3 separate regions of the Homo sapiens genome follow, and regions 1 and 3 are each linked to region 2. The links come from fine-mapping of genetic effects on gene expression. A gene starts in region 2. Each other region holds a variant in brackets. All regions are shown on one strand. Distances are between the middles of the regions. Region 1 holds the start of SNHG1 (small nucleolar RNA host gene 1). Region 2 holds the start of TMEM223 (transmembrane protein 223). Region 3 holds the start of POLR2G (RNA polymerase II subunit G).

Region 1 (8,176 bases), 59 kb before region 2:
CAACTCCCCGGGGTCGCATGCGGTCAACGTATGCGCGTGCGCTCGCCGTAGCCCCGCCCCCAAATCCCGTGGGCCTCTGCGGCATGGTATTTAATCGTCTCCCCGGGGAGATTCGTTCTCATTTTTCTACTGCTCGTGGTAAGTGGCTTCGTGGTCTTTATAGCTGTTACTCTTTTGTACTTTGTCTTTTTCTTTTATTTTCTTTTGAGCGATTGTGCGAACATAGCATAGCACGCACTATGCCTTCTGTGTTGTAGCTGCCTGGCCAGGGCGACTGGCGGATAAGGTCTTGTGCGTGGCCTCGAGGCTTAAAAGTAGCAGTGGGGCTTTGTGAAGGACAAAATGGCGATGGCGGGCCGTGTAGGTCCCCCTTCCTATGATGAGGACCTTTTCACAGACCTGTACTGAGCTCCGTGAGGATAAATAACTCTGAGGAGATGGGCCCTGCAAGCCTCTTGCTTAGCCGTCTGTTCAGAAAATAGCGTTTTCGAAATGCCCTGAGTTGACCTAATGTCTTATTGGGCTCCTGTCTGCAGGATTTACGCGCACGTTGGAACCGAAGAGAGCTCTGTTGTTGCAGTAAGTTCTTACGGCCATTTCTTAATCTCTGCTCTTTCGTTGAGTGTGTGGAAGTTGCTACGGGGATGATTTTACGAACTGAACTCTCTCTTTCTGATGGATTAGTGGAGAAAACAGAAAATTCTGAGTAGCACTGTACTGTACGCAACAAATGTCAGGGCCCTATTGATTTGTCTGAGGTGTTAGTGAAGGGTGTTATTTTTTCAGATGTTCAGCCCACAAGAGCTTACTGGTGAAGGAATGGGACAAGACCCATCTTTATGCAAAGCCAGCGTTACAGTAATGTTCCAGGTAGGTGTACATGGTTTATGCTCTTACAGAGGAGACCTTGTAGATAACCACTCCATGATGAACACAAAATGACAAGCATATGGCTGAACTTTCAAGTGATGTCATCTTACTACTGAGAAGTGAGAGAGAGGTCTTAAGGGGTCTTTGAATGACTATTTTTAGGTACATAAAATGCTTTCCTCTGTTGTCTACAGCATCTCATAATCTATCCTGGGGAATTCAGCTGCCTCCCAGGGTGAATACAGGTAATTATCCAAATTGGTGTATGTCATCTTTGTAAATGTTCAAGAAAACAAGTGGCCGGCGGAACAATGTTTTTTGGCGCCTTCCATCTTGTTCCTCTTGAAATGATTTTCTGGGGAGGGAGATCGCAACCCGGTACTACAGTTCTTGTAAGGGTGTGCTGTTACCCTCATCCATATATCGATCACGTTACTGTCAGATGATTTGAATTGATAAGCTGATGTTCTGTGAGGTACAAAAGTTAATAGCATGTTAGAGTTCTGATGGCAGTTGTTGTTTATGAATAAGCTTCATTCCATCCTAATACCTTAAAATAACTAATTTGCTTTCCTTTCCAGGTATTCCTGATGACAGTCTGCCTCTATCTTACAGTAAGTTGTTTTTCGAATTCTATGGGCCTATTATCTAATAGATAACTTAGCCATTTTGATATTTGTTACCAAAGCCTGCTTAACCCATAAAGTTTTCTGGTTCCTCTTGTTCTCTGTAGTGATGTTTCTAGATAGATGCCCACTGATATATGCCCCTTTTTTCTCAGATAGATGCCCACTGATCTGCCCAGGGTCAGACGAATGCTTGTCAGTTGTAGCTTTCCAGGATTCTGCTCCAATGAGGAGGAAACATCCTGCCTTACCCCTGTTTTAGCCTGGGAACCAGTAATTGTGAACTCACCAGGGTTAACATGAAGAGGGCATGAGAGCTTATTCCATAAGGAATTGTCTGAGACATTTGGTTACCTTTTCTTAGTTTGTCCATTAGCAACCGTAACTAAAATAGTTTTGGCTGTTTGGGATAATTAGCTAATTGAATGATTTTTTGATTCAGGAGCAGCTTGTTGCTATATACCATTGAAAAGCCTTCAGAGCTGAGAGGTTAGTTGATATTTTTTGTTCCTTACAGCTTATGCCACCAAGTAGGCAGTTTCTATGATGAATCAAACTAGCTCACTATGACCGACAGTGAAAATACATGAACACCTGAGAAACTGGAGAACGCAGGGAGTGGGGGGTAACCATGTCTGAGGAATCTTTCACCCACAGCTTTGTTTTTCTCTAGGTACTACTAACCAATAACCTGCTTGGCTCAAAGGTGAGTAATTTCACGGTATTCAATGCACTCAGTATATAGGGTAGGAAAAAGTGCCTTTTTAGGCCTGTGTTTGTGATGACTTACATGGAATCTCGTTCGGCTGATGACTTGCTGTTGAGACTCTGAAATCTGATTTTCTGAGAATGATGGGTGGGAACAACATAATGCGGGATATGAGAAGCACTACTGACTTGGTCTTCCTCCTTTCAGGGCCAGCACCTTCTCTCTAAAGCCCAAGAGGAGTTTGAGGTAAATGGCTTTGCAATAGTTACCATCAATGGCTGCTATATAAAATTTTCTGTGATTTTTGTGTGTGATAGCACTGTGGTCTGGGTGAATGTACACAGACATAACTGGCTTAACCCAAAGTCTTTGATCTCCTGAACCACCAGTGATGAATTGCTGCTCACCAGTGATGAGTTGAATACCGCCCCAGTCTGATCAATGTGTGACTGAAAGGTATTTTCTGAGCTGTGAGCCTGCCTTCCAGTGACATGTTCTAAAAATTGCAAGTTATTTGAGGAGGCTTTACAGCCAATAGGAAGTTCTTGGGCTAAGTAGTGTTTCCTATAAAATGTGCCCTGAAACTTCTTTCTGCCAAGCAATAGATACAATTGAGAGATTGTAAAATGTGACATAGAATGAAAGTCTCTCAAGACTACATTTTTCTTTCTTGATTTTGCAGGAAAACTAGGTGTCTGTGTTCACTCCAGGCTGAAGTTACAGGTGAGTAAACCTAAATGTAAGGTGGACTATGCTAAAAATTCCCAATGAAGAAACTTTCACATGTCTTACTCTCTGTCCTAGTCCCAGAGCCTGTAAAGGTGAACCCACTGGGACTGGCTGGGGGAGAAGAGGAAGATTTGTTCCAGAAGGAACTGTCTGAGGGATGATAAAGATTTCTATACAGAGAAAGGGAGTAATCATCACTTGTTGAAAACATTGGTTTTATTTTTTCCAGGTCTGAGCAAATAAGGTGTATAAAAAATGGTAGGTATCTGTTTAAATATTTAACTGATTTTATAATAGCAACCTTTTGCTCCTAGGTTACATAGTGTTAAATATTGTGTTCATTTGTATTTTCCAATCCAATAAGAACTTTTTTTTTTACCTCTGCAGGAATCTGTCTTGGAGGACATCAGAAGGTGAATTTTCCAAGTTCTTGGACAACCTAGCTGTTGAAAAGCTTTCTGGGTTTGGGGGGTATTTCAGATGTACCTTAAAGTGTTAGCAGACACAGATTAAGACACTGGGAGCCAATGAAACAGCAGTTGAGGGTTTGCTGTGTATCACATTTCTGTATTTTATCACCCCCTTCCTGCAACATTATTTATCTGGAATCTACCTGCCCTTTTGTTTTTTAGATACAAGGGCTTGGTTTTGTTACCCAGGCTGGTTTCAAGGCCATAGCTTTAAGAGATCCTCTCACCACAGATTTCCAAAGTGCTGGGATTGCAGGTGTGATTCATGGCACCCAGACTTTGCTGCCTTTCTTACATGATCCAGGCCCAGAACCCAAACTCAGGCACTGTATAGATGACCACTTTCGTAAACTACTGACCTAGCTTGTTGCCAATTGTTGATTGAACTTCCCATAACTCCACTTCGTGTCTGTTCCTCTGTATACAGCCACCTTCTGTTCC[C/T]GTCATGAGCCTTTAGGTCTCCATTTGCATATTGCAAATACTATGTTCCATGTAGGTAGCTCATTCAGGGCCTTGCTCTTCACTTCAAAAAAGGTTCCCTTGAGGACTGGCTGTCAATTTGTGTTGCTGTGTTGGTTGTTGATGAAAATAATAAAATGATTGATTACATAGTCCTGTTTACTTTTTTTGTGTGTATGTGTCTCTTAGCATCAGTGTGTAAATTTCCATGGGAAACTGGCTTTCCTCTCATGCTCCCTGAAGTACCTGGAACTTGAAGGGACATCTGACAGTTTGCCTGATAGGCAGTGTGTTAAATGAGTAACCTGAGTAGAACATCCATCTTTTTTTTTTTTCTCTTGCCTAGTCTTAGAGTACAGTGACATGATCACAACCTCACTGCAGCTTCAAGCTTTTGGGCTTAAGCAAACCTACTTGACTTTAACCAGCAGCTGGGGCTGGGACTACAGACACCACACCCAGCCCAAATCTGTTTTTTCCTGGGGGAAGCAAGGGACAATGGAGTCAAGCTGGAGTGCAGTAGTGCCATCTCGCCTCCCTGCAGCCTCCACCTGGATTGAGTGATTGTCCTGCCTCAGCCCCGAGTAGCTGGGATTGCAGATACCTGTCACGAAGCAAGCCTAGTTATTGGGATTTTAGTAGAGGTTTCACTATGTTGACCAGGCTTAGTCCTGACCTCAAGTGATCTGCCTGCCTCCCAAACCTGTGCCTTTTTTTTTTTTCTGAGGTGGAATCTCGTTCTTGTCACCCAGGCTGGAATGCAGTGGCATTATCTTGGCTCACTGTAACTTCACCACCTGGGTTCAAGCCATTCTCCCTGCCTCAGCCTCCTGAGTAGCTGGAACTACAGCCGCATGCCACCACACCCGGCTACTTTTTTGTATTTTTAGTACAGATGGGGTTTCACCGTGTTAACAGGATGGTCTCGATCTGACCTCATGATCCGCCTGCCTCGGCCTCCCAAAGTGTTGGGATTACAGGTGGGAACCACTGCACCCAGCCAAATTATGCTTTTTATTTTATTTTTTTGAAACGGAGTTTCTCTGTTATTTCCCAGGCTGGAGTGCAATGGCAGGATCTCTGCTCACCGCAACCTCCGCCTCCCAGGTTCAAGCGATTCTCCTGCCTTAGCCTCCCAAGTAGCTGGGATTACAGGCATGCGCCACCATGCCTGGCTAATTATTGTGTGTGTGTGTGTGTGTGTGTGTGTGTGTATATGTATATATATATATATATATATTTTTTTTTTTTTCAGTAGAGACGGGGTTTCTCCATGTTGGTCAGGCTGCTCTTGAACTCCTGACCTCAGGTGATCCACCCGCCTCGGCCTCCCAAAGTGCTGGGATTACAGGCATGAGCCACGGTGCCTGGCCAAATCTCTGCTTTTTAATTGGCCTTGAGGAAGAAGGGAAAGCACAGGGACAGTGCCAACCTGTGGATACTATGGGGTACAGAGTTGTGTATGGTTAGGTCAGCAGCTCTCAATTTTTTCAGACGGTCTTGCTCTGTCACCCAGGCTGTGGTACAGTTGTGCGATCACAGCTCACTGCAGCCTCAACTTGCTGGGCTCCAGTGATTCTCCCACCTCAGCCTCCCAAATAGCTGGGACCACAGGTGCACACCACCATGCCCAGCTAATTTTGTATTTTTGTTAGAGACAGTTTCACCATATTACCTAGGCTGGTCTTGAACTCCTGAGCTCAAGCAGTCCACCCAACTCTGCCTCCCAAAGTGCTGGGATTACAGACATCTGCACCTGGCTGCTTTTCTTTGTTTTTTGTTTTTTGTGGGTTTTTTTTTAAGCCACCAGGTATTAAAGCCGGTTCTCAATCTTTTTAACCAGGCAGAATATGTTTGGAGAGATTTCTTCAGTTTTTTCTGTTTTTTTTTTGTTTGTGTGGTTTTTTTTGTGTGTGTGTTTGTTTTTGTTTCTTTTGAAGCTCTTTGTCACCCAGGCTGGAGTGTAGTGGTGTCATCATGTCTCAACACAGCCGCAAGCTCCTGGGCTCAAGCGATCCGACACCTGAGTTTCCCGAGTAGCTGGGACTATAGGGACATGCCTACTATGCCCAGGTAATTTTAATTTTTTGTAGAGATAGTCTCACTATGTTGCCCAAGTTGGTCTCGAACTGGGCTCAAGTGATCCCACTGCCTCAGTGTCTCAAAGTGTTGAGATTACAGGCATGAGCCACTGCACCCTGCATCCCTCAGAAGAGCAATTTTTTAAATCTTCCCTGAGCTTGGAGACTCCAGCCTGCATTGACAGGTAGCCCCCCTTTGGGTGATTCTGTTGTAAGCCACCAGATAATGACTACCCTTATATTTCTCAAAGTGTTTGGGAGAATGGACACCAAGTAGTGATAAATTACGGGATTTTTACCTGTTTTATTTTTTATTTATTTACTTTTTTTTTGTTTTTTGAGAAGGAGTTTCGCTCTGTCACCCAGGCTGGAGTGCAGTGGTGTGATCTCGGCTCACTGCAACCTCTGCCTCCCGGGTTCAAGCGATTCTCCTGCCTCAGCTTCCCAAGTAGCTGGGACTACAGGCGTGTGCCACTACACCCAGATAATTTTTGTATTTTTAGTAGACACGGGGTTTCACTATATGTTGGCCAGGCTGGTCTCGAACTCCTGACCTCAGATGATTCACCCACCTCGCCCTTCCAAAGTGCCAGGATTACAGGTGTGAGCCACCGCACCAGGCCCTGTTTTTAATTTTTGTTTGTAAATTTTAGGATTTCTCCGGTCAGAATTATAAGAACAGCAACTCAGCTGAAACAACACACATTTTTTGCTCATTAAATGGTAGCCACATAGACTTGAGAGTTGTCAGCACAATAATTTACAACCACAAGAATGGAAGAGTCAATTCTGAGAAGACCACCCAAGGACCCTAGGGGAGCACCAGAATTTAGAGATGGAGGATCAGCAGAACAGAAACTTAGAAAAGCAGTGCAAGCAGTGGGAACCTGCACGGTACTGACTTGCAAACTGAGGGAAGTCTCCCCACTGCCCACAGCTGAATCTTTTGTTAAAGCCACAAAGAAGTCAGGTGGGGACTGGCCAGGTGCAGCGGCTCACACCTGTAATCCCAGCACTTTGGGAGGCAAAGGTGGGCTGATTACCTGAGGTCACAAGTTCAAGACCAGCCTTGCCAACATGGTGAAACCCCATCTTTACTAAAAGAAATGAGCCGGGTGTAGCGGCATGCACCTGTAGTCCCAGCTACTCAGGAGGCTGAGGCAGGAGAATCTCTTGAACCTGGGAGGACTCCAGCCTGGACGACACAGCAAGACTGTATCTCAAAAAAAAAAAAAAAAAAAAAAAAAAGGCCGGGCACAGTGGCTCACACCTGTAATCCCAGCAGTTTGGGAGGCTGAGACAGGCGGATCACCTGAGGCCAGGAGTTCAAGACCAGTCTGACCAACATGGAGAAACCCTGTCTCTACTAAAAATACAAAATTAACCGGGCATGGTGGCATGTGCCTGTAATCCCAGATACTCGGGAGGCTGAGGCAGGAGAATCGCTTGAACCCGGGAGGCAGAGGTTGTGGTAAGCTGAGATCGCACCATTGCACTCCAGCCTGGGCAACGAGAGAAACTCCATCTCAAAAACAAAAAAAGAAATGAGACTGGGACAATATGGAGAAATGGAGGAGAAGGCCAGAATGATTGAGGCCTGGCTCTTCACATTTCTTCTGTACATTAATGACTCAGACTACAAGGTCTTTAGCAAGAACCTCTTCCCTAAGCTCCAGAGGAGCTTGCAGTGAGCCGAGATCACACCACTGCACTCCAGCTGGTTGACAGAGCGAGATTCCATCTCAAAAAACAAAAAAAGAAAAAGAAAAAAAAAAAGAAAATCACCTGGCCACAGTGCCTCAGTCTCCTCTTCTGTAAAAGGGAACATTAAAAGCACCTACTTATCTCTTAAGGTTGTTAATACATATAAAGTACCTGTAATGGTGCCTGGCACCATTGACCAGCAGGCTAGAGACCTTGAGTCAGTCATCACCAGAGAACAGAGGGAAGGAAAGCCAGGGCCCTACATGGGACATTTCAGCAGAGTGTGAATAGAGGGAGAAAATGCAAATACCTGGCCAGGCATGGTAGCTCATGGCTGTAATCTCAGCACTTTGAGTGGTGAAGGCAGGAGGGTTGCTTGAGGCCAGGAGTTCAAGACCTGCCTGGGCAACATAGCAAGACCCCATCTCTACAAAAAATTAAAATTAGCCAGGCATAGTGGTGCATGCCTGTAGTCCTAGGTACTTGGGAGGCTAAGGTACTTGAGAGGGTGGCTTGAGCCCGGGAGGT
Region 2 (8,176 bases):
TCCTGACCTCATGATCCACCTGCCTCTTCCTCCCAAAGTGTTGGGATTAGAGGCGTGAGCCACCGCACCTAGCCATTTTTTTTGTATTTTTAGTAGAGACAGGGTTTCGCCATGTTGCCCAGGCTGGTCTTGAACTCCTGGGCTCAAGCTATTCACCCATCTCAGCCTCCCAAAGTGCTGGGATTACAGGCATGAGCTTCCATGCCCGGCCACAACTCACTCTTGGGAGCTACTGGGTCCTTGTATGGCTGTAGACCACAGAGCCCATACTTTCTTTTTTGTTTTTCCCATAGGTACTATGCAATTTACGACTCTGGAGACCGACAAGGGCTCCTGGATGCCTACCATGATGGGGCCTGCTGTTCCCTGAGCATTCCTTTCATTCCTCAGAACCCTGCCCGGTTAGTATCACATCCCAGAATCTGCCCGGGACCACTGGGTTTCCCAGCAGATACAGGGCACACCTGCTGGCAGCACTGCTCTGAACACCACGTCCATTCCTTTTATTCCCCCAGAAGCAGCTTAGCCGAGTATTTCAAGGATAGCAGAAATGTGAAGAAGCTTAAAGACCCTAGTAAGTGTGTGATACGAACAAAATATGGGAAAAGGGCATGGGAAGGAATCAGTCAGAACTCAGGAGTGTGTGGCAGCACCACTGAGCTTTCTCCTCTACCCACAGCCTTGCGGTTCCGGCTGCTGAAGCACACGCGTCTCAACGTTGTTGCCTTCCTCAATGAGTTGCCCAAAACCCAGCACGACGTCAATTCCTTCGTGGTAGACATAAGCGCCCAGACAGTAAGCTCCTGCTTGCGCCTGACAGAAGCCTAGAATTGGGGTGGGGGTGGCATTTAATAGGCAAGGGGGGGCACTCAGGCTCTGAGAAGTGTACATTGTACCTGATGCTGCTTCTCTTTCAGAGCACATTGCTGTGTTTTTCTGTCAATGGAGTCTTCAAGGAAGGTAAGAATCTTTAGAGTCCCGAGTTTGTAGCGTGGTCCCACCCCCAGCTGGAATTTTCCTCAGCACTCTTAGCTTCCCAGCTACTTTCTCTCCCATTTTCTTTTTGAGCTCCTTCTCCCATTCTGCCCCCAAGCCGTCTTGGCTTGGCCTACCTCTCCACCTGTCCTGTCTGGATGTGGGAAAAGCCTGGGGATTAGGAGGACTTTGGAGTCAGGCAGTTCTTAGTTTCCATCCTAGTTTTGGTTGTGCGGGGCTGTGGACAAGTAACATTACCTCTAAGACAGATTCTTTATTTGTAAGATGGGGTTAGTAATAGCCGTCTCATAGTGGTGCTATAGGAAGTAAACTGAAGTGACTTACAAAGTGCTTGGCCTGGGGCCTGGCATACAGATGCTATCAGTGGATTAGTAGTTATTACTTTTTTTTGAGATGGAGTCACACTCTATCACCAGGCTGGAGTGCAGTGGCGCAATCTTGGCTCACTGCAACCTCCGTCTCCTGGGTTCAAGTGGTTCTCCTGCTTCAGCCTCCCGAGTAGCTGGGACTACAGGTGCGCACTACCACGCCCAGCTAATTTTTGTATTTTTAGTAGAGAAGGGGTTTCGCCATGTTGGACAGGATGGTCTCGATCTCTTGACCTCGTGATCTGCCCACCTCAGCCTCCCAAAGTGCTGGGATTATACGCATGAGACACTGTGCCCGGCCGTAGTTATTACTATTGTCCTTTCTGACCTGACCCTTCACCCCACCTGTGCTTCCCTTATACCCTTATATACTTAATCATTCCTCTCTGACTTGCTAGGATTCTTTATATCAAAGACCATGATTCAAGAAGCTGTTTGTAAACATAAAGCACTAGTGACCCTAAGGTGTTGTTGCTGTTCTTATTGCAGTGGACGGAAAGTCCCGGGATTCTTTGCGAGCCTTCACCCGGACATTCATTGCTGTTCCTGCTAGCAATTCAGGGTAAGTATTCTGCTTTTCGCATTGGATACCAGTCCTAATCCATGGCCAACAGTGTGGTAATTGGAGGGTAGAGTCAGTCTTTGGGGTGATTTCAGAAAGGCAACAGGAAATCAGAGAAAGCTCACATAGTAGTTAAGAGCCAGTTAATAGCTTGGCTCTGGAATTGTACCGTCTGGGTTTTCATCCTGGCTCCACCACTTCTAGCAAGTAGGCTGCTGCCTCATCTGAAAATTCATATAACAATATTCATTTCCTAAGTTTGTTGTGAGGATGAATTAAAAGAGCTAAAGTCCATGCGTTGGGAGAACCCTAGTGTGTTTAGTAGATAATCCTTCCAAACATTGATTCCATGGGAGGGGATAAATGATAAAAGGTAACAATAGCTAAGAGTGGGAGGGGGACCTTGTGGATATTGAAAGAATCAGAGAATAGGAATGATGTTGGGAGGATGATGTTATCTCTGTCTAGCTTTTTAAGTGCTCTTTGTCCTCAAGGCTATGTATTGTAAATGATGAGCTATTTGTGCGGAATGCCAGTTCTGAAGAGATCCAAAGAGCCTTCGCTATGCCTGCACCCACGCCTTCCTCCAGCCCGGTGCCCACCCTCTCTCCAGAGCAGCAGGAAATGTTGCAAGCATTCTCTACCCAGTCTGGCATGAACCTCGAGTGGTCCCAGAAGTGAGTGCGGGGCATGTGTAGGATGGGGATGCACTGAAGTAGGGCTAGTAGTAAATAATGAGGGCTCCTGACAGTTTTTTTGTTTTTTTTTTGGAGACAAGTTCTTGCGCTGTCATCCAGGCTGGAGTATAGTGGTGATCATAACTCACTGTAGCCTCTAATTCCTGGGCACAAGCTGTCCTCCCACCTCAGCCTCCAGAGTAGCTGGGCCTATAGGCATGTGCCACCTTATTTTATTTTATTATTTTTTTTTTTTGGAGGTGGAGTCTTGCTATGTTGCCCAGGCTGGAGTGCAGTGGTGCGATCTTGGCTCATTGTAACCTCTGCCTCCCGGGTTCAAGCAATTCTCCAATCTCAGCCTCCCGAGTAGCTGGGATTACAGGCACACACCACCATGCCTGGCTAATTTTTGTATTTTTTTTTTTTTTTTTTTTTTTTAGTAGAGACGGGCTTTCATCATGTTGGCCAGGCTGGTCTCGAACTCCTGACCTTGTGATCTGCCTACCTCGGCCTCCCAAAGTGCTGGGATTACAGGCATGAGGCACTGCACCCAGCCAAATTTTTATTTGCTTGTTTGTTTTGAGACAGGGTCTCACTCTGATGCCCAGGCTGGAGTACAGTGGTGTGATCACAGTTCACTGCAGCCTCAACTGCTAGGGCTCAGGTGATTCTCCCACCTCAGCCACCTGAGTAGCTGGGACTACAGGCATAGGCCACAGCACCTGGCTAATTTTTTTGTATTTCTTTGCAGAGATGGGGTTTCACCATGTTGCCCACCTAGGCCTCCCAAAGTGCTGCGGTTATAGGTGTGAGTTACTGTGCCTGGGCTCCTGAAATTTTAAAAGGCAAAACTTTTGGCTGCTTAAAAAAACCTAATAGTTGGCTGGGAGAGGTGGCTCACACCTGTAATCCCAGCACTTTGGGAGGCTGAGGCGGCCAGATCACGAGGTCAAGAGATCAAGACCATCCTGGACAACATGGTGAAATCTCGTCTCTACTAAAAATACAAAAATTAGCGGGGCTTGGCGTTCCACGCCTGTAGTCCCAACTACTCGGGAGGCTGAGGCAGGAGAATTGCTTGAACCTGGAAGGCGGAGGTTGCAGTGAGCCGAGATCACGCCACTGCACTCCAGCCTGGTGACAGAGCAAGACTCGGTCTCAAAAAAAAAAAAAAAGCAAACAGAAAAACACAAACCTGATAGTCTATAAAAAATTTGCCTGTGTATAAATTAACATAAAAAACTTTAAAGGTAAAATGGAAGTTCCTTTTCATATACTGTTCTGCAACTTAGTTTCTTTACTTACACCATGAACATCTTTCCCTACCACTGTAAAAACTATCTTGAGCTTCTTGACAGCTATTTAATATTCCTTATCTTTGAGAAGCCATTGGTAGAACATCTGGACTTTTACTAATGTCTCATTTGTATAAATAGTGCAAGGATGTATAAGAATGTACATATTTGTTGGCAAACTTGGGTGCTTTTATGGAGTGGACTTTCAGCTGGCATTTACGAGTCAGAGTTCTTACAGAGCTGCCTGTTCTTCCACTCCAGGTGCCTTCAGGACAACAACTGGGACTACACCAGATCTGCCCAGGCCTTCACTCATCTCAAGGTAAGGTCTGGAAATACAGTGGCAAAAAGACTAGGATCTCTGGGCCTCCAGGAGGTCAGGTTAGCTGAGTGGGGTTGCTGAGTGGCGAGGGTAGGCCTACCTCTACTGACCTTCATTTTTCTCCAGGCCAAGGGCGAGATCCCAGAAGTGGCATTCATGAAGTGATCGTAGTCATGCCTCAGAAGCAGTCCCCCCTGTAAATAGTCCTTGGATATTACCGTCTGGTTGTCGTCTGTCATCTCCTCCTGTCTGGCCCGAGGCCGCCCCGTGACTGTGACCGAGGGAGGGAGGGCTGCCTGATCCCTCTCCTCGCCTGCCTTCTGGAAGACTTCAGAAGATTGAGCCTCACTGGTGCCAGGAAGCCAAAGCTTACTTTGTAGAACTGACACTAAACTACCCGAAGGACTTAGGTGCTTTGTGTACTTAACCCCAGGACCTCCTTACTTTTTAATATAAAGAGTGATGTTGTATTTCGTGTTCTGCACTTTTTAATATAAAGAGTGATGTTGTATTTCGTGTTCTGCGTGCTGGATTGGTTGTCTCCTCCCAGCCCTGAGCGAGGGGGGCGGGCCCTCTAGCGGGGGCGCCCAGGGAGGGCGGAAGGCGGCTCTGCGGCAGGAAGCCCCACCCCGGAAGTCGGCTGGCCATGGCGGCGCCTTGGAGGCGATGGCCCACGGGGCTGCTAGCCGTGCTGCGGCCCCTGCTCACCTGCCGGCCCCTGCAAGGCACGACGCTGCAACGGGATGTGCTGCTCTTTGAGCATGATCGGGGCCGCTTCTTCACCATCCTCGGGCTGTTCTGCGCGGGCCAGGGCGTCTTCTGGGCTTCCATGGCTGTGGCAGCCGTGTCCCGGCCCCCGGTTCCGGTGCAGCCTCTGGATGCGGAGGTCCCAAATCGTGGCCCCTTCGACCTGCGCTCCGCGCTCTGGCGCTACGGTCTGGCCGTCGGCTGCGGCGCCATCGGTAAGACGTGGGCTGGCTTCCCACTGTGACAACGTGGGGTGGCGGGACACGACCTTCCCTATACAGGCAGGGAGAGTCAGGGACTCCCTATCCGAGAGTGGCGGGCGGGCTTTACCCCACAGAAATGTGAAACACTGGCCGGGCGCGGCGGCTCAAATGCTGGGAGGCCGGAGGCGGGCGGATCACTAGGTCAGGACATCCAGACCATCCTGGCTAACACCGTCAAACCCTGTGTCTACTAAAAATACAAAAAATTAGCTGGGCGTGGTAGCAAGCGCCTGTAGTCCCAGCTACTCGGGAGGCTGAGGCAGGAGAATCAATTGAACCTGGGAGGCGGAGGTTGCAGTGAGCCGAGATGACGCCACTGCACTCCAGCCTAAGCGACCGAGCGAGACTCCCCTCTCAAAAAAAAAAATTGGGAAACAGTGATGTCTCCGAGCGCCGTGCCCTGTCATAGCCTAGGCTGAGGGCTGCCCTTCACTCTGCGACCTTGAGCAAGGTCCTTAAAGCTCTCCATCTTCCCATTAAAATGGAAACGGACATCTATTAAGGTTGTTGGGAGGAATAACAAGATTACTGGGTATAACAGGAGCTCAGTACTGCACTCCAGCCTGGCCGGCAGAGTGAGACTCAGTCTCAAAAAAAAAAGCGCTCAGTAAATACTACTTTCATCCCACAAATTTCTTATTCAGAGGGCACTGGAAAGGTCGGTACTTAGATGCCCAGTGAAAACCCCTCACCCCAATCTCTGCCCTGCCTGCAGGAGCCCTCGTACTCGGTGCTGGTCTTCTCTTCTCTCTCCGGTCTGTGCGCTCAGTGGTGCTTCGAGCTGGAGGGCAGCAGGTGACCCTCACCACTCATGCCCCCTTTGGCTTGGGGGCCCATTTCACAGTTCCTTTGAAGCAGGTATCTTGCATGGCCCACCGGGGTGAAGTCCCTGCCATGCTACCTCTGAAAGTCAAAGGCCGACGCTTCTATTTCCTCTTGGACAAAACTGGACACTTCCCTAACACAAAACTCTTTGACAATACTGTGGGTGCCTACCGGAGCTTGTGAAGAAATGACCTCAAGTCACTCACCTCTCCAAGAGGAGGATAAAAACTGAACCTTGGGGAGCCAGGTGTGTTGGTTCACACCTGTTGTAATCCCAGCACTTTGGGAGGGTGAGGCAGGAGCACTGCTCGAGCCCAGGCTGGGCAACATAGCGAGACCTTGTCTCTATTTACAAAAAAAAAAACAAAAAAAAACGCCAATCTTAGAATGGAGTAACAACCAGGGTCACACAAGGAGGTCAAGATTCATTAACAACAAATAAAGGAGCAGTCATCCCTAGGGCAGCTGCCTAACAGTACCTCTAAGTTTCAGTCCATGTCTGCTTAGCCTTCACTCCTTCCTCCTATCTAGTTGTACTTTAACATCAAAAACTCACTACTAAGATGAAGACAGTAATATAATATTTTGGTACAAAAACAGCTGCAGGAAGAGGTGGAGGGGGGCCTGTCATTATGTTTCCCCCCCACCCCCCAACGAAAGGAAAACTAAGACTCCCAACATAAACAGGGCCTTGAGGGGGGGGATTACAGGCACTTGGGCATGGAGTCTTCGGCTGCAGGAAGCACTCCGCTTATTCTTCAGGAATGGGAAAGGCGTGACCCAACGAGAGCATCTGTCTCAGAGCTCCACTCAGGGTCACCCCTCTCCAGAGGCCGGTATGGGGTGGCTTCAGACTTCCACTGCACGACCTGGAGCACCAAGACCACACACCACAATACCAAATTCACCCAAGAAGAGGTCTGTAGGAGACAGGGACAGGATCGTCAGGAGTGGGACCATTTCAAATCCAGTCCTTCCCACCCACACACCACTCTGAACTGCTGAATTTTAAGCTGACAACCCCTTCAGCTCCTCTCACTGGTAGGCCAAGCTCACAATACACTGGTGAGCACCCACACAGCTACAGATATTTATGTCAGTTTTTCCTCCTATCCTTGGGTCTCACTTCAGCATTGTGTAGGTTGGAGTAAAACTGCAGAGCAGTTCCAGGGGGTGTCCATGGAATTTTCTGGGCTTCAGAACAGCTGTGAGGTCAAAGAGACAGTTGTGAGAAAGCGTGATAGTTTATATCCGAGGCACACCTGTGCCCAGTGCCCTGTGAGTTGAGAGCAACTGATGGGGATAAAAGGAAATTATAGGACCCCGCTGCAGAGGGAAGGTAGTCAGCCCCAGCCAGGCTTCCCTCCCTCTCCCATTACCTAATTGTAGTGTTCAAGGAGATGATGGAGTTGCAGAGAGACCTGGTGCCAAATCGAAGGATACAGGCAGACACCAAGACCAGGAAGACGGCTATAGCTGAGATGGCCAGTGCAATGCGCAGCCCTATAGCACCTCTGAAAGGGAGAGAACAAGCCTTGTGGTGGAGGTGAGGCTCATCCTACCTCAGCCCCTGGCCCTCAGGGTTAGGCAGTCACCTGTGGGAGTCCTCGATGCAGCTGCTGTAGATCCAGAAGAGCAAAAGCAGGAGGCAGTAGAGGGCCAAGAGGCCAGAGGCCCCAGCTACAAAGTAGCACAGGGATGGTGCTGAGGGACGGGATAAGGCCAGGGAGGAGCCATTCAGGGTGGCCACACCATACAGGGGACATCTACCACTGAAGGAGCCCTGTGGAGAGAAGCTGCTGAGTCCTAGATTTCAGGTTAATGTCTCTAGATACAGTCTCTTGGTAGGGTGTTAGTGATAACTTAGGAATGGTCCTGCATTCCAGGAAGTTATTTGTGCACCGTCAATTCCTATTTCTGGGACAGGGATATTGATGGAGAGGGCCTGCTGGGGAATCACACCGGCAGTGGCCAGAAGGATCAGAAAATAGGCAATGAATATAGAATGCAATGAGCTTCAGAGAAGCCTCACAAGTTATGGTCTCTGTGCAGAAACCTTAGAGTAAACCCAGGCCTTGTATATCCTTCAACAAATAACTATCTGTGAGGTGCTTTTTTTTT
Region 3 (8,176 bases), 31 kb after region 2:
AGTTTATGAGAAGTTACATCACAATCACTTCACTGTAAGCCCGGGGGCATATTGAATGCACATCACTTTCACACCATCGTAAAGTCATAAAATCATGAATCAAGCCATGGTAATTCGGGGACCATCTGTACTCAGCCATCCCCAGGCCAATATTCTCCCTCAGGATGGCTGATTCTCTCCTTGTCTCCCTGACTTCTTTCTGTCCACTCACCTCATCCATTGTCTTGTAACATGGTGGGTTGGAGTTAGGATCAAACTCCATCTCTGAAGGGATGGACTGAAAGGAAAGTGAGATCTAGGTTAGCACTTTAAATGGATGCTTCAATAGATGGTGATGAATGAGTATCTGTCTTCCTCAGCCCCACCCAGTGTGCCCAGACTTACATGTCGAGAGATGAAGCAAGACATGGGCCCAATTTCTGTGAAGAGTCCAACCTAGAAAAAAAATGAGTGATCTTACGGCCGTGCACGGTGGCTCACGCCTGTAATCCCAGCACTTTGGGAGGCCGAGGCCGGTGGATCACGAGGTCAGGAGTTTCAGACCAGCCTGACCAACATGGTGAAACCCCGTCATTACTAAAAATACAAAAATTAGCCGGGCATGGTGGCGTGCACCTCTAATCCCAGCTACTCAGGAGACTGAGGCAGGAGAATCGTTTGAACCCAGGAGGTGGAGGTTGCAGTGAGCCGAGATTGCACCATTGCACTTCAGCCTGGCAACAGAGCAAGACTCTGTCTCAAAAAAAAAAAACAAAAGAGTGATCTTGCCTTTTCTTTGTCCCCTCAAGTGTTGTGTTTTTGTTTTTTGCTTTTTAAATTTTGAGACAGGGTCTCACTCTGTTGCCCAGGTTGGAAAGTAGTGGTGCGATCACAGCTCACTGTAAATTTGAACTCCTGGGCTCAAGCGATCCTCCCACCTCAGCCTCCCAAGTTGCTGAAACCACAGGTGCACACCACCATGCTAGGCTAATTTTTAAAAACTTTTTGTAGAGACAGAGTCTTGATATGTTGCCCAGGCTGTCTCAAACTCCTAGGCTCAAGCAATCTTCCCACTTCTGCCCCCCAAAGCACTGGGATTATAGGTGTGAGCCAGCGCACCCAGCCCTTTTCTCTTTTTTTTTAAGCTTTCATTTGTATTTATTTACATATTTACTTTGAGACAGAATCTCACTCTGTTCTCCACTCTGGAGTGCAGTGATGCAATCTCAGCTCACTGCAACCTCCACCTCCCAGGTTCAAGTGATTCTCATGCCTCAGCCTCCCGAGTAGCAGGGACTACACGCACATGCCACAATGCCTGGCTAATTTTTGTATTTTTAGTAGAGATGGGGTTTCACCATATTGGCCAGGCTGGTCTTGAACTCCCACCCTCAGGTGATCTGCCCACCTCAGCCTCCCAAAGTGCTGGGATTACAGATGTGAGTCACCGCGCCCAGCCTAAGCTTTCATTTTAAAGTATTAAAGAGCTTAGGCCTGGGACGTGTTAGTCCAAGATTTGAACACCTGTTGGCCACATGATCTTGGCCAGTACACTTAATTTCTTCCAAGCTTCAGCTTCTGTAAAAAGCACCCACTGGCCGGGCACGGTGGCTCACGCCTATAATCCCAGCACTTTGGGTGGCTGAGCCAGGCAGATCACCTGAGGTCGGGAGTTCGAGACCAGCCTGACCAACATGGAGAAACCCCATCTCTACTAAAAATACAAAAATTAGCTGGGCATGGTGGCGCATGCCTATAGTCCCAGCTAGTTGGGAGGCTGAGGCAGGGGAATCGCTTGAACCCAGAGGCGGAGGTTGCAGCGAGCCGAGATTGCGCCACTGCACTCCAGCCTGGCAACAGAGCTAGACTCCGTCTCAAAAAAAAAAAAAAACCCACCTTTTAGAGTCATTGTGAGTCTCTGCACATCACCTAGCCCATAGTAACTACTCAATCAACACAGGCTTTTATTGTTATGACTATTAATACTGACTCTCTTGCCCTCTGAGTTAGGCAGGGCAAGATTACCATATAATTTGAAAGTGCAGGCCGGGCGCGGTGGCTCAAGCCTGCAATCCCAGCACTTTGGGAGGCCGAGGCGGGTGGATCACGAGGTCAGGAGATCGAGACCATCCTGGCTAACACAGTGAAACCCCGTCTGTACTAAAAATACAAAAAATTAGCCGGGCGTGGTGGTGGGCACCTGTAGACCCAGCTACTTGGGAGGCTGAGGCAGGAGAATGGTGTGAACCCGGGAGGCGGAGCTTGCAGTGAGTGGAGATCTCGCCACTGCACACCAGCCTGGGTGACAAAGCGAGACTCCGTCTCAAAAAAAAAAAAAAATAGCCGGCCATGGTGGCACGTGCCTTTAGTCCCAACTACTTGGGAGGCCGAGGCAGGAGAATCACTTGAACCTAGGAGGCAGAGGTGGCAGTGGCCAAGATCGCACCACTGCACTCCAGCCTGGGCAACAGAGCAAAACTCTCTCAAAAAAAAAAAAAAAAAAAAAAAGTGAAGTGACTTAGCCAAAGGCACAGAGTTATGAAGTGGAGCCAGAACCCAACCCAGATCTTCCGAGAGACTACCCCACTGCCTCCCCTATGTATGGTCTCACCTTGTTGACCTGAGTGACAACAGCATCCACGACCTCCCCTTTAAATGGCCGGAAAACAATGGCCTTGTACTTAACTGGATAAAGGACAAAGCCTCGGCCTGGCTGGATCACACCAGCACCAATATTGTCAATGGTGGTGACAGCAATTACAAAGCCATACCTGCAAGGAGGATGAGAAACAGGAAGACACTGTGTGTCCAAGAGCCTCTAAAGACATCTGCAATAAAAGTCGCTGAGCTCTTGGGGGTAGGGTCGGGGAGAGCAAAAGGACAAGTAGATAGCACCTCTGCTCCCAGAGAGCTTAATGACCAAAAGAAGACAGAACAGAGATCAGTATGTGTAAGACCAAATGCTGTTCTGGTAATTTCACAATAAATGTCCAAGAAGGCTGGAGTCCTTGAGGCAACAGATCTCAATCTTCGGGATGCCTGAGAATCATCTTCTTAAAATGCAGATTCTCAGGTCTGCCCCAGACAGTCTTGATTCTGTAGGGAATAAGGAGGCTCAGGAATCTGCATGTTCCTGCAGGTTTTTCTGATGCTGGAGGCCCAAGTACTCCACTGCCCTGAGCTGGGTCCCAGCTCATTAATATCAGAGAGGCCCCTCTGTGCAAAGCCCAGAGATGGTCAAATCCCAGGCTACTTCCTTCCTCCCCCAAACTCTCGATCTGCTTTTTCTGGTCATTCATTCAGAAGATATATAGAGGCCCATGGTGTGTGGTCCCTGGGCACAGGGGATAAGAGAAAACCAGCAGAATGACAGAGGGAGAGCAGACACAGGAACAATGATTACACTGTGAGCTCCACAGGGGCTGTCCTCATTCTATCTTGTTCCCATTCTACCTTGTTCTGAGCCCAACACGGGTCCTGGCACACACCAAGGGTTTTTAAAATGTTTGAGGAGTCAATGAATGACCCATCTCAGCTGAGAGAAGGAAGTCTTATTGTCCAGCATTGCAGAGGGCGC[C/T]CTGGGAACCCAAAGCAGGAAGCAACTGGCTGCCTGAGAGAGGAGAGGGGTCCCCAGAGTGGGTGGCAGGACGAGTAGGAGTTGGGGAGGGGTTGCAGGTATAGCGCCCCGTGTGCGCATCGAACGATCTGGCGGTGCGGTGAGCTCGACACTCACTTCCCTGTGCAGGTCCCCTCCACCTCGGTGAAGAGCTTCTGCTTCACCGTGTTGAGCAAGTTGGGGCCGAAGTAGCGCGGGTGCAGCAGGATTTCGTGCTCTAGGGAGATCTGCGGAGAAAAGTGGGATGGCGACCAGGCCAGGCGCTGGCAGGTTATTGGACGACAAGGGGAGTCTCGCGCCGGCGCCTGGCCTTGCTCTTCCTTTCCACCCAGCCCTTGCCGCCACCCTGAGCCCTGCTCACATGGTAGAACATCTTCCCAGACCAGGTAGGCAGGCAGAGTCCACACCTCCGACAGTCCCTGGGAATCCACCGGAAACACTTAGACGCCGCAACCCCAGTTCCGCGCTTGCTGCGACTAGGAGGGCGGAACACCACCTCCTCCGCGAGGGCGGAACTCCACCAGCTCCGCGGGTCTGATTGGGCCTCGCCGTCGTGGGCGAGAACCACTAAGCCCCGCCCCTCACCCCCGCCCCCCAGCCATCAAACGACAACTTTTTTTTTTGAGGCGGAGTCTCCCTCTGTTGCCCAGGCTGGAGTGCAGTGGCGCGATCTCGGCTCACTGCAACCTCCGCCTCCCGGGTTCAAGCGATTCTCCTGCCTCATCCTCCCGAGTAGCTGGGATTAAAGGCATGTGCCACCACACCTGACTAATTTTGTATTTTTAGTAGAGATGGGGTTTCTCCATGTTGGTCAGGCTGGTCTCAAACTCCCAACCTCAGGTGATCCACCCACCTCGGCCTCCCAAAGTGTTGGGATTACAGGAGTGAGCCACCGCGCCCGGTCGGCAACTATCTGAATTGCTTGAACCTGGGAGGCGGCCCGAGATCTTGCCACTGAACTCCAGCCTGGGCAACAAGAGCGAAACTCCATCTCAACAGATAGATAGATAGATAGATAGATAGATAGATAGATAGATAGATAGATAGATAATAGATAGATAGATAGATAGATAGATAGATTGATAAATGCTACCACTTACTGCTTTCTTCCTAGATGCCTGGGCAACAAGAGCGAAACTCCATCTCAATAAATAAAATAAATAAATAAATAAATGCTATCACTTACTACTTTCTTCCTAGATGCCAGACACTGTGCTAAGCGCTTGATATAATTCTCTCCCTTAATTCTCATAATAATCTACAGAAATTGGTGTAGAAATAAAAAAAAAATGTTTACGAGCCTTAGCCAAAAGGCCAAGAAGCTACAGAAAATAATGAAATTTAGGCCGGGCGCTGTGGTTTACGCCTGTAATACCAGCACTTTGAGAGGCCGAGGCGGGCAGATCATGAGGTCAGGAGATTGAGACCATCCTGGCTAACATGGCGAAACCCCGTCTCTACTAAAAATACAAAAAATTGGCCGGGCGTGGTGGCAGGCGTCTGTAGTCCCAGCTACTCAGGAGGCTGAGGCAGGAGAATCGCTTGAACCCGGGAGGCGGAGGGTGCAGTGAGTTGAGATCGCGCCACTGCACTCCAGCCTGGCGACAAAGCAAGACGGAGTCTCAAAAAAAAAAAAAAATTTAAGAGCTATTGGAAGCCCAAAAAACACTTTAAGCCTCGAGAGAGATATGACTGCGAGTCACATATAGTTTACAACTTCTGTTCTCAGATTATAGATTAACTCTTTTTTTTTTTTTTTTTTTTTTTGAGACGGAGTCTTGCTGTGTCGCCCAGGCTGAAGTGTAGGAAATCCATGACTATTTCATCCTCTGTTAAAAAATGTTACATGCGCCGGGCACTGGTGGCTCATGCCTGTAATCCCGGCTACTCGGCTACTGGGGAGGCTGGGGCAGGACAATTGCTTGAACCCGGGAAGCTGAGATTGCAAAGAGCCGAGATCGCTCCACTGCACTTCAGCCTGGGATGCAGAGCAAGACTCCCTCTCTCTTTTTTTTTTTTTAATAGAGACGGGGTTTCTCCATGTTGGTCAGGCTGGTCTCGAACTCCCGACCTCAGGTGATCCGCCCACCTCGGCCTCCCAAAGTGCTGGGATTACAGGCGTGAGCCACCGCGCCCGGCTGACTCCCTCTCAAAAAAAAAAAAAAAAAAAAAAAAAAAAAAAAAAAAAGTTACATGCAAATCACGAGATCAGAAGTTCAAGACCAGCCTGGCCAAAATAGTGAAAACCCATCTCTACTAAAAATACAAAAAATTAGCCGTGTGTGGTGGCAGGTGCCTGTAATCCCAGCTACTCCAGAGGCTGAGGCAGAAGAATGTCTTGAACCCGGGAGGCGGAGGTTGCAGTTAGGCAAGATCTTGACACTGCACTCCAGCCCAGGCAACAGTGCGAAACTCCAAATAAAAAAAAATTGGAAAAAAAAAGTTACATGTATACTTCCCAAAAAGAAACATTGTCTATAGCCAACCAAATTGCTATAACTATGTACCAATCTTCTGTGAAAAATGTAATCCTGCTAAAAAGTCATGTGTGCTTGCCTATATAAATGAAATCTTAACTTTCTTACTTCACAACACTGACTCCATTCTTCTGGAGTTGGTGGTTCCAGGTGTTCCATTCTCATACTTCGCACTTGAAAAAACTCTAAATTAGGTTCTGACCCGTCGGATTATTTTAGGTTGACACTGATACTATTATTATTCCTACCTTATACATAAGCCAGAAAAAGATTAAGGGGAGGTATTTGGGTATGAATAGCTGACCTGCTCCAAAGCTTGTGTTCCTTTTTTTTTTCTTTTTTCTTTCTTTCTTTTTTTTTTTGAGTTGGAGTCTCACTCTGTCGCCTAGGCTGGAACTTAGTGGTGCAATCTCGGCTCGCTGCAACCTCCGCCTCCCAGATTCAAGTGATTCTCCTGCCTCAGCCTCCCAAGTAGCTGGGATTACAGGCGCCCACCACCACGCCCAGCTAATTTTTTTTTTTTTTGTATTTTTAGTAGAGACCAGGTTTCACCATGTTGGCCAGGCTGGTCTCGAACTTCTGACCTTAGGTAATCCATCTGCCTCAGCCTCCCAAAATGCTGGGATTACAGGCCTGAGCCACTGCGCCCGGCCCCACCTTTTTTTTTTCTTGAGAAAGGGTCTCATTCTGTCACCCAGGCTGCCAGGCTGGAGTGCTCATTGCATTCCCCAGCTACAGGTATGGGTCACCATGCGCGGGTAATTTTTTATTTTTTGCAGAGATGTGGGTCTTACTCTGTTGACCAGGCTAGTCTTGAACTTCTGGCCTCAAGTGATCCTCTTGCTTTTGTCTCCCAAAGTGTTGGGATAACAAGTGTGAGCCCTCACACCTGGGAAAGTCGCATTCTTCACTACTGTAAACTCTACTGCCTGAGACTGAAACTTTGGATAAAAAAGACACCAAAGCAATGACAAGGATTGTTGTGTCTGCTCCTCAAAGTGTGTGCACGTAGAGCCTGAAAGCTCAGAACAGCAATTCTGAAGTTGTGGTCCCCAAAAGAACCTTTCAGGGGATTGGTGAAGTGCTCTTCTAGTTACATGTCTGTGTGAGACCAAATTTTCTTCATGTATTTCAATCAAAACAATATATCCTAATAGCTAATAGAAGCAGATGTGAAAATCGAGCTGTCTCCTATCGAAACAGTGTGATATTGTGAAATATACGTTTCTTTGACCCTATTTTCTGCCATACAACTCCTAAATCTCTAAAGTGATTTTTTTGGTATGCTAATGTTAACTGATGGCTGGCAGGCCCTAGGTAGCTTCCGGATGGGGGCTGGTCACCATAAAGAGCAGGGCATGATTGGAAGGTTGGGGTTTTCAGCCCACCCCCAACTTCTGGGGAGTGGAGGGGGTGCTGAACTGTTGAGTTGATCACCAATGGCCAATCGTTTCAGCAGTCATGCTTGCATAATGAAGCATCCACAAAAATCCAAAAGGACTGGGTTCAGAGATTCCACATAGCTGAACACCTGGAGGTTCCTGGAAGGTGGCACACCGGAAGAGGGCTCGGAAGCTCCACATCCCTTCCCCCATACCTCACCCTAGGCACCTCTTCATCTGCATCCTTTCAAATAGCCTCTATAATAAACCAGTAAAGGTAAGTAGGTGTTTCCCTGATTTCTATGAGCCACCCTAGCAAGTTAACCAAGCCCAAGTAGAGTTGTGGGGGCCTAGATTTACAGCTGGTCAGTCAGAGGCATAGGTAAAACAGCCTGGGGCTTTTGACTAGCATCAGAAGTCAGGGGCCATGTCTGGTAAACAATAATTTGATTTAAAAAAAAAAAAAAAGGAAGGGAGGGAGGGAGGGAGGCAGGGGAAAGAGAGAGACAAGAGAGAGAAAGAAGAAAAGAAAAAGGGGAAAAGAGAGAGAGAAAAGAAAGAGAGAGACAGAGAGAGACAAATAAAGAGACAAAGAAAGAAATAGAAAGAAAGGAAAGAAAGGAAGGAAGGAAGGAAGGAAGGAAGGAAGGAAGGAAGGAAGGAGAAAGGAAAAGAAAAGGAAGGAAAAGAAAAGAAATAAAAGAAAAAAGGAGAGAAAAGAA

The links. PIP is the estimated chance that this variant, and not a neighbour inherited with it, causes the effect.
Region 1: its variant is fine-mapped to the expression of TMEM223 in whole blood (INTERVAL, PIP 0.97).
Region 3: its variant is fine-mapped to the expression of TMEM223 in whole blood (INTERVAL, PIP 0.92).

The regions. Positions count from the first base shown.
Region 1 is chr11:62,847,827-62,856,002 of GRCh38, reverse strand. SNHG1 (small nucleolar RNA host gene 1) reads left to right here and starts at 118. Exons shown (of 9, transcript NR_152585.1): 1 at 118-579; 2 at 787-870; 3 at 1,452-1,484; 4 at 1,939-1,985; 5 at 2,170-2,202; 6 at 2,413-2,451; 7 at 2,888-2,928; 8 at 3,164-3,192; 9 at 3,322-4,025. SNORD22 (small nucleolar RNA, C/D box 22) reads left to right here and starts at 2,968; the gene lies at 2,968-3,093. SNORD31 (small nucleolar RNA, C/D box 31) reads left to right here and starts at 2,610; the gene lies at 2,610-2,677. SNORD30 (small nucleolar RNA, C/D box 30) reads left to right here and starts at 2,271; the gene lies at 2,271-2,340. It also overlaps SNORD29, SNORD28, SNORD27, SNORD26, SNORD25 and LOC124900306. RefSeq lists enhancers at 5-184, 295-374, 1,012-1,986, 5,264-5,323, 5,374-5,563 and 1 more. The variant C/T (reference allele first, on the strand shown) is at 3,846.
Region 2 is chr11:62,788,685-62,796,860 of GRCh38, reverse strand. It overlaps TMEM223 (transmembrane protein 223), which reads left to right and starts at 4,855. Exons shown (of 2, transcript NM_001080501.3): 1 at 4,855-5,182; 2 at 5,946-6,890. The coding sequence starts at 4,867. The coding sequence ends at 6,238. It overlaps TMEM179B (transmembrane protein 179B), which reads right to left. Exons shown (of 5, transcript NM_199337.3): 2 at 7,651-7,838; 3 at 7,435-7,569; 4 at 7,182-7,260; 5 at 6,461-6,975. The coding sequence ends at 6,814. NXF1 (nuclear RNA export factor 1) reads left to right here. Exons shown (of 21, transcript NM_006362.5): 14 at 294-401; 15 at 516-574; 16 at 680-795; 17 at 918-960; 18 at 1,854-1,926; 19 at 2,421-2,603; 20 at 4,160-4,220; 21 at 4,347-4,731. The coding sequence ends at 4,385. It overlaps MIR6748 (microRNA 6748), which reads right to left and starts at 7,046; the gene lies at 6,976-7,046. It also overlaps MIR6514. RefSeq lists a silencer at 4,726-4,875 and an enhancer at 4,946-5,455.
Region 3 is chr11:62,757,441-62,765,616 of GRCh38, reverse strand. It overlaps POLR2G (RNA polymerase II subunit G), which reads right to left and starts at 4,037. Exons shown (of 8, transcript NM_002696.3): 1 at 3,957-4,037; 2 at 3,713-3,822; 3 at 2,591-2,750; 4 at 385-435; 5 at 212-277. The coding sequence starts at 3,968. RefSeq lists an enhancer at 3,829-4,028. The variant C/T (reference allele first, on the strand shown) is at 3,557.